2 separate regions of the Homo sapiens genome follow, and region 2 is linked to region 1. A link means that fine-mapping ties the variant in region 1 to the expression of a gene that starts in the linked region. Tissue or cell type: whole blood. Region 1 holds a variant in brackets; the other region holds the start of a gene. All regions are shown on one strand. Distances are from middle to middle.

Region 1 (7,604 bases):
CCCTCCTCAACAAAAGAAAAGCAGAAGATCTACAGCCACTCCTTCCTCCCCCCACTCACCCCATCCCTGGCACTCACATAGATCCTCATGTTGGTGTAGCGTTGGCGCAGATTGTCTAGGACACTGGCCTCATTCAGGAAGGTCATGTCTGCCATGTCACTGGCCTGGTAGAATTTGGGTGGGTTCATCTGCTGGATATCATCCTTCTTCACAGTGAGTGTCTGGGGGGGTCAAGACACAGCAGCACAGGCATCAGGCATGGGGCATGGGGCATCTGGCCCAGGTCACCACATACCCTCTGGAGTCCCAGGAGATGGAGTGGAGCATCCAGTGGACCCAAGTCCTGGTCCAGCCACATCCCCCTGTGTGTCCTGGGATGGGGAGGCACTTCTGAGGCCAATGCAGCTTCAACTGCCTCCTCTCTGAAGTTGAGATGACAGTAGCCTCCTTGGCAGGTTGCTGGGAGAATTATATGAACTTAAGTGGAATCATGTAAAAATACCTTAAAAACTATGACGTTCCCTCCCTATGTTACAGAGACCTCTGGGCTCTGCTTCTCTTCCAGCCAAATCCATCCTGATAGATGATCAGAGCTTATTCTTTGATCCCATGGACACTTTGCAGAGATGTGACTCTTGGCTCTCTGCCTTGAGAGTTAGCGGTGATTTCGAAATAGCGATGAGCTTTTCCATTTCTCTCTCTCTTTTTTAAAGACTAAGTGCAGTAATGAGAAGGGTGGGGGGAAGAGTGGAACAAGGATTTTGATCTGTAACTGACCATGCACAATCAATTGAGATAACTCACTACCTTCAGACCAGCCAAACTTTTCCTTTTTAAATTTTTAATTTAATTTTATTTTTTGAGACATAATCTTGCTCTGTTGCCCAGGCTGGAGTTCAGTGGTACAGTCATAGCTCACTGCAGCTTCAATCTCTTGGGCTCAAGCCATCCTCCTGCCTCAGCCTCCCGAGTAGCTGGGACTACAGGTGCACACCACCATGCCTGGCTAATTTTTAATTTTTTTTTCTAGAGACAAGGTCTTGCTATGTTGCCTATGCTGGTCTTGAACTCTTGGCCTTCAATGATCCTCCCATCTTGGCCCCCAAAAGTGTTACAGGTGTGAGCCACCACATGTAGCCACTGTTCCACTTGAAAAAAAGACATTCCCCTGCTCCCTCCAAGCCACCTTCAAGGATAAAATTGAAAGCAAGCAAGAAAAGAAGAAAAAAAAGAAACCAGCAATGAGCATTCATCAGTAGGTGTGTTCGCGCCCGTGCCATGTGGGCAGATCTCTTCCCCATGCTGCACCCCAATTTCTTCATCTATAAATGAAAACTAGGCCGGGTGCAGTGGCTCATGCCTGTAATCCCAGAACTTTGGGAGGCCGAGGTGGGTGGATCACCTGAGGTCAGGAGTTCGAGACCAGCCTGGCCAAAATGGCGAAACCCTGTCTCTACTAAAAATACAAAAATTAGCTGGGCGTGGTAGCGCACACTTGTAACCCCAGCTACTTGGGAGGCTGAGGCAGGAGAATCACTTGAACCCAGGGGGCGGGGGTTGCAGTGAGCGGAGATCATGCCGCTGCACTCCAGCCTGGGTGATAGTGCAAGACAAAACAAAACTAAACAAAAAAAAAAAACTAGTGCCAGCTCTTAAGAAGCTCCAGCATCTGGGATCAAAGCTGAAGACATACGATCTAGAAAACAAATACCTTTTGGCTGCCTGCAACCTTAGATGTGAGGCCTGAATCCATACTGGGATTTCTGGGACTTTTAATAACTTATTAGTACAATAGGCAGATAATTTGAAATCTTGACAGTTCTGGAAAATCCACCCCCACTCCCCGTAATGGTTACCACGCCCTTAGTAAACCAAGCTGTTTTTTGTTTGTTTGTTTTTGTTTTGTTGTTTTTTCTGAGACAGAGTCTCACTCTGTCACTCATGCTGGAGTGCAGTGGCGTGATCTCAACTCACTGCAACCTCCGCCTCCTGGGTTCAGGCAATTCTCCTGCCTCAGCCTCCCAAGTAACTGGGATTACAGGCGCAGGCCACCATGCCCGACTAAGTTTTATATTTTTGGTAGAGATGGGGTTTCACCATGTTGGCCAGGCTGGTCTCAAACTCCTGACCTCAGGTGATCCACCCTCCTTGGCCTCCCAAAGTGGTGGGATTACAGGCGTGACCCACCATGCCTGGCCTCAAGCTGGGTTTTATTCTGAATTCATTTCCAGGGGTTTCCAGATCTCTGGTCCTCGTCCACGTGCAGACACTTCGCTTTCAGCAGAGGAATGGAGAACTTGGCCTTTATTTTAGGAGCCAGGGAAGCCAGCGCCACAGGCTCCATCTTTTCTGTCCCAAACCCGGCTGGCCGGCACTGTCTGCTGCAGATACTCAAGGAAATTGTGTTGTCCTTAAATGTGGATCCAAACTTAGATGCACCCTGGGGCTCCACTATCATCACCCATCACTTCTCACGACACTGCAGCACTCTCCTCTCTGAAAACTGTTTCTCCTGGGAATTAAGCTTGACTTTCGTTCAAATCCATTTCCACCCAACTATATCTTTTTACCACTGCTCCTCTCGAAGACAGGCGCAGAGAAAAATACAGCTGTTGCCAGTTCTGATCACTGAGGTCTCTGGCTTCCTTTTTTTTTTTTTGAGACAAGGTTTCTGTCTGTCACCCAGGCTGGAGTGCAGCAGTGCAATCCTAGCTCACTGCAGCCTCAGCTTCCTGGGCTCAAGCGATTCTCCTGGCTCAGCCTCCTAAGTAACTGGGAGTACAGGGATGCACCACACCTGGCTAATTTTTTGTAGAAACGGGGCCTCGTTATGTTGCCCAGGCTGGTCTCAAACACCTAGCCTCAAGCGATCTGCCTGTATCGGCCTCCCAAAGTGCTGGGATTACAGGCTTG[A/T]GCTGCCGCGTCTGGCCTCTGACTTCTTTTAATCAAGAAATTAACCAGGAATGGACCTCGCAGGTGCTAATATATTTATTGCTGAACACACATTGCTCTGTTTTTTGTTTTTGTTTTGTTTTGTTTTGTTTTCTTTGCTTGCTTGCTCTCAATTTTATCCTTGAAGGCGGTTTGGAGGGAGCAGAGTAATGTCTTTTTTCTTAAATGGAAAAGTGGCCGGGTGCAATGGCTCATGCCTCCCTCTTGGCAGCCCACCATGAAGGGATGGAATGGTGACATAGAAGGGGCATGGGCATATGAGCCAGATACAGTGGGTTTGAATCCAAATTCATCATTTGCTATTTTTGCAACGTACACAGGTCACCTAAAGTGCCCTTGATCCTCAGTTTTCCTTCTCTGCAAAATAGGGTCAATAAATCCTACCACATAAGATTGCCAAAAGGATTAAACAAAGTGTCAAGTGCCTCACCAGGGGTCTGCCAAGAATACAAGAGACCCTGCCCTTACCCATTTAAAATAAACCAAATTAAAAAAATTCTAATAAAAATTGTTATTATTTTCTAAAAATAAAGATAGGGTCTCACCAAGTTGCCCAGGACAGTCTCAAACTCCTGAGCCCAAGTAATCCTCCTGTCTTGGTCTCCCAAAGTGCTGGGATTACAGGTGTGAGCCACCACGCCTAGCCTAATAAGCCAAATTTTCTATCCATTCTCTCAAGTCATATCTCATAGTCAGACGTAGTGTGGGCCAGCAGAGAGAAGGGTGGGTTGGTAAACCAGCTGTCTGGGGGGAAGTGTCCCTGATTTACAGCATATTCCCATTTCCATGGTATAAATACTTCCATCACGGCTGATAGCAAGCTACCCAAGGTTTAACAACTGGCTGTAAAATCCCTCATTGTTTAGTGTTGGGGTCTTTGCAAACCATCACAAGCCAGGTTGGATCCCTGCAATCCACGATAAGCCAGGTTGAGTCCCTGCAAGCCATCATTAGCCAGGTTGGGTCCTTGCAACACGTTAAAAGCCATCGGAAGCCATCACATCCAGCACACCACCCCCATGCTCCAAGAGACCTGGGAACCACCATCTGTTCTTCATGCAGCTGAAGAGCTCACCCAGTGAGCCAGGGTGTTCTGTGCCCTCTCTCATGGCCCTCATGCCACCAGGGGCCATGGCACACAGTGACACTGCTCATAAGTGACATGCTCACTCTCATGCTTAGAAAATAGCTTCCACTTGAGAGCTGTTTGAGACATCAAAGATAAGTAACTCTCACGATCATCCCTTACGCACGGTACTGTCTTAGAGTCTATGAAGTGCTTTCATGTGATCTGTCTCGGAATCTCTATTGTGATATAGCTCAGAGAGGGAATGCGTCTTGCCCAGGGCCACACAGCTTGAGTGTAGGCGAGTCTGGATTTGACCCCAGCACATGGGACTCGGAGGCACCTGCTCTTTCTGCCACCCTGCCTTCTGGGCGGGAGCATGCCTAGAAAAGGCCTGGGTGCCTGCCACTTGGTTTCATCCTGGAGATCGTGCCCCACTCACCTGGTTGGTGATCGTCTTCACGGTGACTTGGTCACCCTGTTCAGACTGGATCTCCCCAGCGACGAAGCCTTCCTTCTCATCTTTGACCCAGCAGGACCTCTTAATGTCATAGGGCTTGTTCATGGCTTCAATCCTCTCCTTTTCAGGAGGTGCCAGGAAAGGCATAGGGTCCACATCGTCCCCACACTCCCCTTTGTACCCACCAGGCATGGTGGCTTGGTTGAGGATGGAGCAGGAAGGAGCTGAGGGCAGGAACCAGGACTTCCCTGGGTGCTGTAGGGGGAAGCAGAGACAAGCTGCTGAGGCTCACAGGCTGAAGTCAATGTCCCGAGAAAGACAGAGGCTTGCTTCTCTCATGTCACCTTGTCTGTCTTGGTGCTATTAGGCTTTCATAACCAAGAATAAGAAAGAAGCTAATTGTTCAGCCACTGTAGAAAGCAATTTGGAGATTTCTCAAAGAACTTAGAACTGTTATTCAACCCAGCCATCCTATTCCTGGGTATCTAAAAAAAGGGAAAAATAAGTTTTCCTACCAAAAAGACACATGCACCTGTATGTTCACTGCAGTGTTATTCACAATGCAAAAACATGGAATCAACCTAGGTGGCCATCAGTGGTGGATTAGATAAAGAAAATGTGGTACAGGCCAGGTACAGTGGCTCACACCTATAATCCCAGCACTATGGGAAGCCAAGGTGGAAGGACAGCTTGAGCCCAGGAGTTTGAGACCAGCCTGGGCAATATATCAAGGCCCCATGTCTACAAAAACATTAAAAAATTAGCTGGGCATGGTGATGTGTGCCTGTAGTCCTAGCTATCCTCAGGGCTAAGGCGGGAGGATTGCTTGAGCTGGGGAGGTCAAGGCTGCAGGAAGCCATGATTGTACTACTGCACTCCAGCTTAGGTGACAGAGCAAGACCCTGTCTTAAAAAAAAAAAGCCAAAAACAGAAAGAAAATGTGGTACATATACACCATGGAATACTATGCAGCCATAAAAAAGAATGAAATCATGTCCTTTGCAGCAACATAGATGCAGCTGGAGGCCATTATTCTAAGTGAATTAACATAGAAACAGAAAACCAAATACCACATGTTTTCACTTATAAGTGGGAGCTAAATATTGGGTACAGACAGATAGAAACAATAGACCCTGGGGACTACTAGATGGGGGAGAGCAGGAGGGAGGCAAGGATTGAAGAATGGCCTATTGGATGCTATGCTCACCACCTGTGTGATGGGATCATTTGGATCCCAAATCCCAGTGTCACTCAATATACCCATATAACAAACCTGCATGTATACCCCTTGAATCTAAAAGTTGAAGTTATATTTAAAAATGAAATAAGCTAATAAATCTTCACAGTTAAGTACCCCCTCACCCCCAACAACACAAATGCTTCTGCCTCTTTCATCTCATATGTTCCTCATACTAAGGCTGTGAGGTAGGGATCAGGAAGCCTATTTTATGGAGGAGAACACTGGGGCATGGAGAGGTTAAAGGTAGGGTTTCTACCCAGGGTCTGTGAAATGGGACAGGAAAACAATTGCCACTTGGTTTTCACTTTCTATCTGATATGAACAGAGGCCACAGACCTCCGTAGCACCACAGCCTCTATTTGCTCCCAGCAAAAATCAAAGCTCTTCACTTCTCGTTAGGGTGGCTGCAGATGTCTCAAAATACTGTTTATCTTCATCTCAACTTTAAAATTATGGTCTCTTTAAGCCCTTGGTTTGATACTGTTCTTTAAATTTTTTAATAAAGAAGGACATTTATTATTGCCTTACTGCCATGTCACAAATTAGTTTTTAATATATTTTTTCTTTTCTTTTTTTTTTTTTTCAGAGGCAGGGTCTTACTCCATCACCCATGCTGGAGTGCAGTGGTGCAATCATAGCTCACTGCAGCCTCCAACTTCTGGGCTCAAGCAATCTTCCCACCTCAGCCTCCCAAAATGCTGGGATTACAGGCATAAGCCACTATGCTCGACTAATTTTAAAATGTTTTATAGAGATGAGGTCTCACCATGTTGCCAAGGCTGATCTCAAACTCTTGGCCTCAAGTGATTCTCCCACCTTGGCCTCCCAAAGTGCTGGGATTACTGGTTTTTGAGCCAGCGCACGCACCCAGCCAGTATTACAATACCATTCGTTTCCTTTGCAGCTCTGTGTATTTTATTTTACCTTTTTTTTTTTTTTTTTTTTTTTTGAGACGGAGTTTTCTTCTGTTGCCCAGGCTGGAGTGCAGTGCTGCAATCTTGGCTCACTACAACCTCTGTCTCCTGGGTTCAAGCAATTCTCCTGCCTTAGCCTCCTGAGTAGCTGGGAGGTGCCCGCTACCACGCCTGGCAAATTTTTTTTTTTTTTTTTTTTTTTTGTATTTTTAGTAGAGACAGGGTTTTACCATGTTGGCCAGGCTGGTTTTGAACTCCTGACCTCAAGTGATCCACCTGCCTCAGCTTCCCAAAGTGCTAGGATTACAGGCATGAGTCACCATGCCCGGCCTATTTTATTCATTTAAAAACACTAATCTGAGCGGAGTCCACAGGCTTCACCAGACATCCAGCGGTCCCTAGTACAAAATGACTGCCTGGGTCAATTATTATCTCTCCTAAAACGAGGACAGTCTGGGTCTCTCAATTCCCAAACCCCAAACAGTTTCACTGAATCCCCAGGAAGGAGGGGAACTGGAGGCTCAAGGGAACAAAGACAGAAATCAGGGGCCTCCCCAGTTCGTCTTGGGGTTGAAGAACCTTCTCGAAGTTTCAGGGAGGGTGTGGTTCTGAGCCTCTTTGCCAGCAATGCATTTCTCAAGGCCAAGGGTACAGCCTCAGCCTTTAGATGAGGGACTCCTAATTGTGCGCTGGGCCCTCGCTGTACTGCGCCTACAGTCTCTCCTGCCAACACCCCCAGTTTTTCCAAAAGAAGCTGAGTCACAACAGGCAAGCCACTGAGGCATAGCCAGGCGCTTTCTCCTCCTCTTGTCTTCCTATGGGGCCTGGCGTAGAGAGTTCTGGCTGGAACTTTTTTTCTGCGTCACCCGCCCCCGCCATCCTAGCCCGGAAAGCTCGGCTGTTGCACAGAAACAAGAAAGGAGAGGAGGTGGGCAGGGGTCTTGTGCCCTCATGGGCCAGGGACCTCTTTGG
Region 2 (5,817 bases), 95 kb after region 1:
ATTAAGATCATCTGTGACTCGAGATGTCTCCATTTCTCTTCTTATGTAGAATTGTTCTGTCATCTATGTTCTAGCCTGCTATACACATCCCCATCACTGTATCATTGTCAGTTGCTCATGTCTGTTTCATCCAGTTAACTGACCCTCTGGAATGCTGAAGCTGTAATAGATTTATTTTGTATTCCTTGTTCCTAGCCACATAGCAGGTGGCCAATGTTTGCCGAATGAGTAAAACATGAGCTTCCAGGTAGGAAGGTCCCCTTTGTGCAGCTGTGGTGAAAGATACTATTGGGTATATCTAGCAATTTCAAATGGTCCCAGTTTATGACGGTTTGACTTACGATTTTTTGATGTTATGGTAGGAAAGCGACACACATTCAGTAGAAACCACACTTCAAATTTCGAATTTTGATTCAAAATTCTTTATAATAACTTTATCGTAAAATAGGCTTTGTGTTAGATGATTTTGCCCCACCGTATGGTAATGAAAGTGTTCTGTGCACATTTAAGGTAGGCTGGGCTAAGCTATAATGGCTGGTAGCTTAGGTGTAGTAAATGCATTTTCCGTTGTTTTTTTTTTTTTTTTTTTTTTTTTTTTTTTTTTTTTAAGACACAGTCTCGCTCTATTGCCCAGGCTGAAGTGCAGTGGCACAATCTCGCCTCACTGCAACCTCTGCCTCCCGAGTTTAAGTGATTTTTGTGCCTCAGCCTCCCGAGTAGCTGGGACTACAGGTGCACACCACCACACCCAGTTAACTTTTGTATTTTTAGTTGACAGGGTTTCACCATGTTAGCCAGGCTGGTCTCGAACTCCTGCTCGCAGGTAATCCCCCCACCTCAGCCTCCTAAAGTGCTGGGATTACAGGCATGAACCACCATGCCCGGCCTCCGCAAATGCATTTTTGACATATTTTCAACATATTATGGGTTTATCAGAATGTAACCCCATTGTACATCAAGGAGCATCTGTACTTGTTAATGAATGAACAAAATGCCTTTCAGAAACCTCCAGAAGCAACCTCCTGACTCAAAGATTAAGGAAACAGTCAAGCCAACGAAGAACCAGCCGTCGGGGCGGGGAGAAAAACAACAAAATTAAGCAATGAAAGGTTTCCAGGTCAGGAACACCTGGGGATAAGAACAGGAGCCTGCACCCAGGTAAGCAGAGAGTGATGTCTGGTTTTGTTTAGAGAGGAGACTCTTTGAATAGGGGGGAAATACTAACGGGATTGGCAGAAGAATGGGGATTACTTGGGAGCATTAGAGACTGGATGGATTAATTCAGACCCAGGCATTCACTCTCTGTGACAATCATCTACAAATGGAAACAGCTGGATTGTGGCTCTACTGCTATTGCTTAAACATTGCTTATATTCTTGGGTCTTTCTTGAGGATAACTGAAAGAGCCGCAAGGTGCCATAGAAATGACCTAGGACCATCCTTTTATTTGACAGATGTGATGCCTTGAATCCTGCCCAGGAGAGACTCTGCTTTCACTAGGGTCATCCGAGGCAGGCAGGCAGGCAGGCAGGCGGGCAGGCAGGCAGGTATGTCTAGGCGCTCTAGGTAGAAGGCTCTGTTCCGAAGACTGTGACCTTAGGACAGGCACAAGGCTGCAGGGGATGGTAGCAATGGCCCAGAGCCTACTTTCCTTGGGACACACACACACACACACACACACACAGTATTAAAAGAATTTGTTCAAGTTGATTGATGAAGAATCAAATAAAAATAAAAAAGAACTTGTACATGAAAATGGGTAGTGGGGTCTGGGAGCGGTGGCTTAGGCCTGAAATCCCAGCACTTTGGGAGGCTGAAGCGGGCAGATCACCTGAGCTCAGAAGTTTGAGACCAGCCTGGCCAAAACAGCGAAACCCCATCTCTACCAAAAATACAAAAATTAGCTGGGTGTGGTGGCTAACGCCTGTAATCCCAGCTATACAGGAGGCTGAGACACGAGAATCACTTGAACCTGGGAGGTGGAGGTTGCAGTGAGCCAAGACCGTGCCACTGCACTCCAGCCTGGGTGACAGAGTGAGACCCTGTCTCAAAAAACAACAACAACAACAACAAGGTAGTGGGTAAAAAACAAGTTTGATAAACCTAGTTTTCCCTCTTTCTAATAATACCAGTTTATTTCTATAACATGCTAACAGAGAGGAGTTTGTTTGCTGGAGAAAGCGCATAATGAGCTTTTTCTGTGTGTGTGTGTGTGTGTGTGTGTGTGTGTTTTGAGACAGTGTCTAGCTCTGTCACCCAGGCTGTAGTGCAGTGGCCTGATCATAGCTCACTGCAGCCATGAACTCTGGGGCTCAAGTGATCCTCCCACCTCAGCCTCCCAGTACCTGGGACTACAGGCGCGCACCACCATGCCCAGCTAATTTTTGTATTTTTTGTAGAGATGGAGTCTCCCTATGTTGCCCAGGCTGGCCTCAAAGTCCTGGGCTCAAGTGATCCGCCCGCCTCGGCCTCCCAAAGTGCTGGGATTACAGGCTACAGCCACCGTACCCAGCCATGAGCTTTTGGTTCTAACCTGCAACCCCGGGAGAAGGGGAAATTTAGCAGAAGACATGGGAACACAAACCACAATGCCACTTTCTTGTTTGGTAAAATTGTATGCAGAATGGATAATAACAAACATCCGCCTCTCAACTTTATCCCTCCCTCTCATCTCGTTTTCCTTGTCCGTATATGGCACTTCTGCGATTCTGGCAACTTTGTTATGGGTCAGTGGAGCACACCCGTTGCACAGAACACACCTAAGGGCTTTGTCTCTTTGAGAAGTCCCTCCCTTGAACTTGCACGATCGAAAGCTCTTAACTGAAAAAAACTGGTATTGCACGCCTGTGTGCAAGGAGCTTGGTGTGGACACAGCCCACGGTTTCATGCAAACCACTCTTCAGTCACTCAGGAGCCCAGAGCCTCGCAGAGACAGGGGTCAAGACAGAGGGCGACCGCGCGCTGGGTCCCGGGGCCAGCTCTGCTCTCCCTTCCCGGGCTCGGGGCCAGACCCTCCCACCCACCGACCACAGGAAGGGTGAAGACCCCAACCCGCGGGATCCGGGCCCCGCGCGCCCGAGGCAGGCGTGCGGGCGACGTAGCAGCGCACCCCGCCCCGCCCCAGCGTACGTGGCGGGGGCGCGCACGCACGCAGGCGCGGGGGCGCGCAGGGCCGGGCCGGCACGGCGGCGGGCGCGCGCGCGGCTCGGAGAGGCGGCGGCAGCGGCGGAAGCGGCGAGGGCGGCGGGCGTCCGGCTCTGAGGTGGTGGAGGCGGCGGAGGCGGCGGCGGAGGCGGCGGCGGCTCGGGACTGGGCTCGGCTGGAAGCAGCGAGGGTCAGAGCGCCGCAGCAAGCGCCGATCTCCCGGCTCGACCATCCGCCTGCCGCCCGGACGCCTGGGCCGCGGAGTTTGTGTCCCGGCTCGGACCCCGGCGCCCAGCCCGGAGCCGTAACCTTGAGGCGGCGGCGGCGGGGCCGGGCCGGGCCGGGCTGGGGGGCGGTGGCGCTGGATCCGCGGCTGCCCGATCGTTGGCGGGAGATGTCGAACCCCGGGACACGCAGGAACGGCTCCAGCATCAAGATCCGTCTGACAGGTACGGCCGGCGGGAGGCCCACCCGCGCCCCGGCGCCCCCTCGCCCGCCCCGGAATTCCCCGCAGGGCGCCCTTGGAAGCGGCCCTCCCCCACGCCGGCCGTTGTCCCAGGACCTCGTCACCCCCTTCGGCGTGCGCCCCTCGCTTCTCCCTCCTGGCCCCGCCCCCTCGCCGTTGCCCGGCCCCGCCCCCTGGCCGCTCGCGCCCCCTCGGTCTCGCGTTCCCTCCCGTTCCCCCGCACCTGCCCCCTCGCATCTCCGTCCTGGCCCCGCCCCTCTCATTTCCATTCATGGCCACGCCCCTTGCATCTCCTTCCCTGGCCCCGCCCCTCGCTTCTCTTTTCCTGGCCCCGCCCCTTGCATCTCCTTCCAGGCCCTTTCCCCTCACCTCTCCCCGGCTCGGCCCCTTGCCTCTCGCTTCCCTTCCTCTCCCTAGCACCTGACCCCTCGCTTCTCCCCCCAGGCCCCGCCCCCTTGCCTTTCACCTCCATCCCTGTGGTCCTTTCTCTTCCCCACCTTTCCTCCCCAAACCTGACCCCGCCCATCTCTCTGGCCCCACCCCCTCGCTCCTCTCTGCTCCCGCCTCCTAACTTTCTGTCCCCGCCCCCTCGCTTCTCCCTGCGTCCAGCTCCCTCGCTTCTCTCTGGTCCCGCCTCCTCACTTCTTTCCTAGCCTGGGCCCTCACTTCTTCCTGGTCCCGCCTCCTCACTTCTTTCCTAGCATCGGCCCTCACTTCTTCCTGGTCCCGCCCCCTTGCTTCTCTCCTTTTTTTCTCCTCCGCCGTTTTTACCCCCTCCCTCCTTCTCCTCGCTTCCCATCCTCTCCGCCCACCTGCCCCCTCGCTTTTCCCTCCTGGCCTTGCCTCTGTTCCCCTGGTCCCATCCCTCACTTCTCACCACTTTCCCATCATCTCTCTTGCTTTCCTGTTTTCCCTCCCACCTGCTCCCTCCCCTCATCCTCCTGGTCTTTCCCACCACTTCCAAGCTATTTTGCTACCTCCCCTTCCACTTGCCCCCTTGCTTCTCCCCTCCTGCCCCCACCCACCCTCTTCTCACTCCCCCATCCTCTTTCGTTTCTCCCTCACCCCCCCACACCGTCCTCCTCCCTTCTTCCCCTAGCCCCGCCCCTCACTTTCAAGCCCCGCCCTCATTCCTGCCTAGCCCCGCCCCCTCGCTGCTGTCTGGCGAGGCCTCCACCCTTTCTTTCCTTCAGCCTGAAATTCCTCAATCCTATCTTGTAGCTGCTCCCAGTCCTGCTCTCTTCACTTCCCCCTGGTCCAGCCCTCTTCAGTCTCAGTCTGGGCCACTTCCTGTCTCTTAGGCCAGACCGCTAGCTACTTTTAACTCTGCTTCTTCAATTTTTACCTTTTCTGCATTTTGTTTCACCATCACCCCCACACTCAGCAACCCAGAGCGCCGTGAGGCTCTGATCCCTACTCCCACACTCACTGGAGGCTTTGGAAGCTGCCCACACGCAGGCTCCTTGATTCATTTTGTCTTCAATGAAAAGTCCGTGTTTCCTGGGTGGCTCTGTAGTGCCACCTTCAAGGGTGAGCGCAACGCTCTGCCGCGGGCCTGCGACTTGGTGGCGCGGATGTGATGCCAACCTGTTTCCCCCCGGGCTCCAGAGGTTCTGGACCAGGCTGCATCCTCGTCTTCCCTTTCTCACTCTCATTGGTACTACTCTCTTTCCAGTTTCAATTCATCCCTAAAGCAGGATGGCCGTGTTGCAAATGCGGCTCTGCTCCGGGACTTTCCAAACTCGAATATTTCCAGCTCTGGAAGGAAACTAAAAAGTTCATTCTAATCCCCGTCAGGGATTTTCCCCTGGATTTTTCTGTTCAGTGGCTCAGTCGGGTGAGAACTCCAAAGTCCTGGTTTGGTCAGGTCCTTTCAAAGAGAGAATGAGCGTTTTGAACACTTTATGGCAGATGCGCAGCCATAAAGTCATCGGTAAAATCCATGCAAACAATAGGTAATTTTTTTAAACTAAAATTTACTTTGAGAGCCCATAGTTGTTGCATGGCCCAACTTTTGTCTTAAGAGAAGGTTTTGTTTTTTTGTATAAAGATATCAAATAATGATTTGGACCCAAACCCAGACCCTGGTTTTGTAACGTAGGAGGTAGTTTCCTCTGGGATCTTTGCTTCTGGGGAAATACATTTCTTTATGCCAGGGCTGATAGGAAACGCTTCTCACTTTGTAGATACAATGTAGATACATTTTT

The links. PIP is the estimated chance that this variant, and not a neighbour inherited with it, causes the effect.
Region 2: SMURF1 starts here. The variant in region 1 is fine-mapped to the expression of SMURF1 in whole blood (INTERVAL, PIP above 0.99).

What each region holds. Positions count from the first base shown.
Region 1 is chr7:99,235,895-99,243,498 of GRCh38, reverse strand. It overlaps a transcript of MYH16 not described here. Among named protein-coding and RNA genes, the nearest start is that of KPNA7, 32 kb to the right of the region's middle. The variant A/T (reference allele first, on the strand shown) is at 2,914.
Region 2 is chr7:99,141,502-99,147,318 of GRCh38, reverse strand. It overlaps SMURF1 (SMAD specific E3 ubiquitin protein ligase 1), which reads left to right and starts at 3,211. Exons shown (of 18, transcript NM_181349.3): 1 at 3,211-3,593. The coding sequence starts at 3,539. It also overlaps a transcript of KPNA7 not described here. RefSeq lists silencers at 2,950-3,449, 3,590-3,919, 3,980-4,029.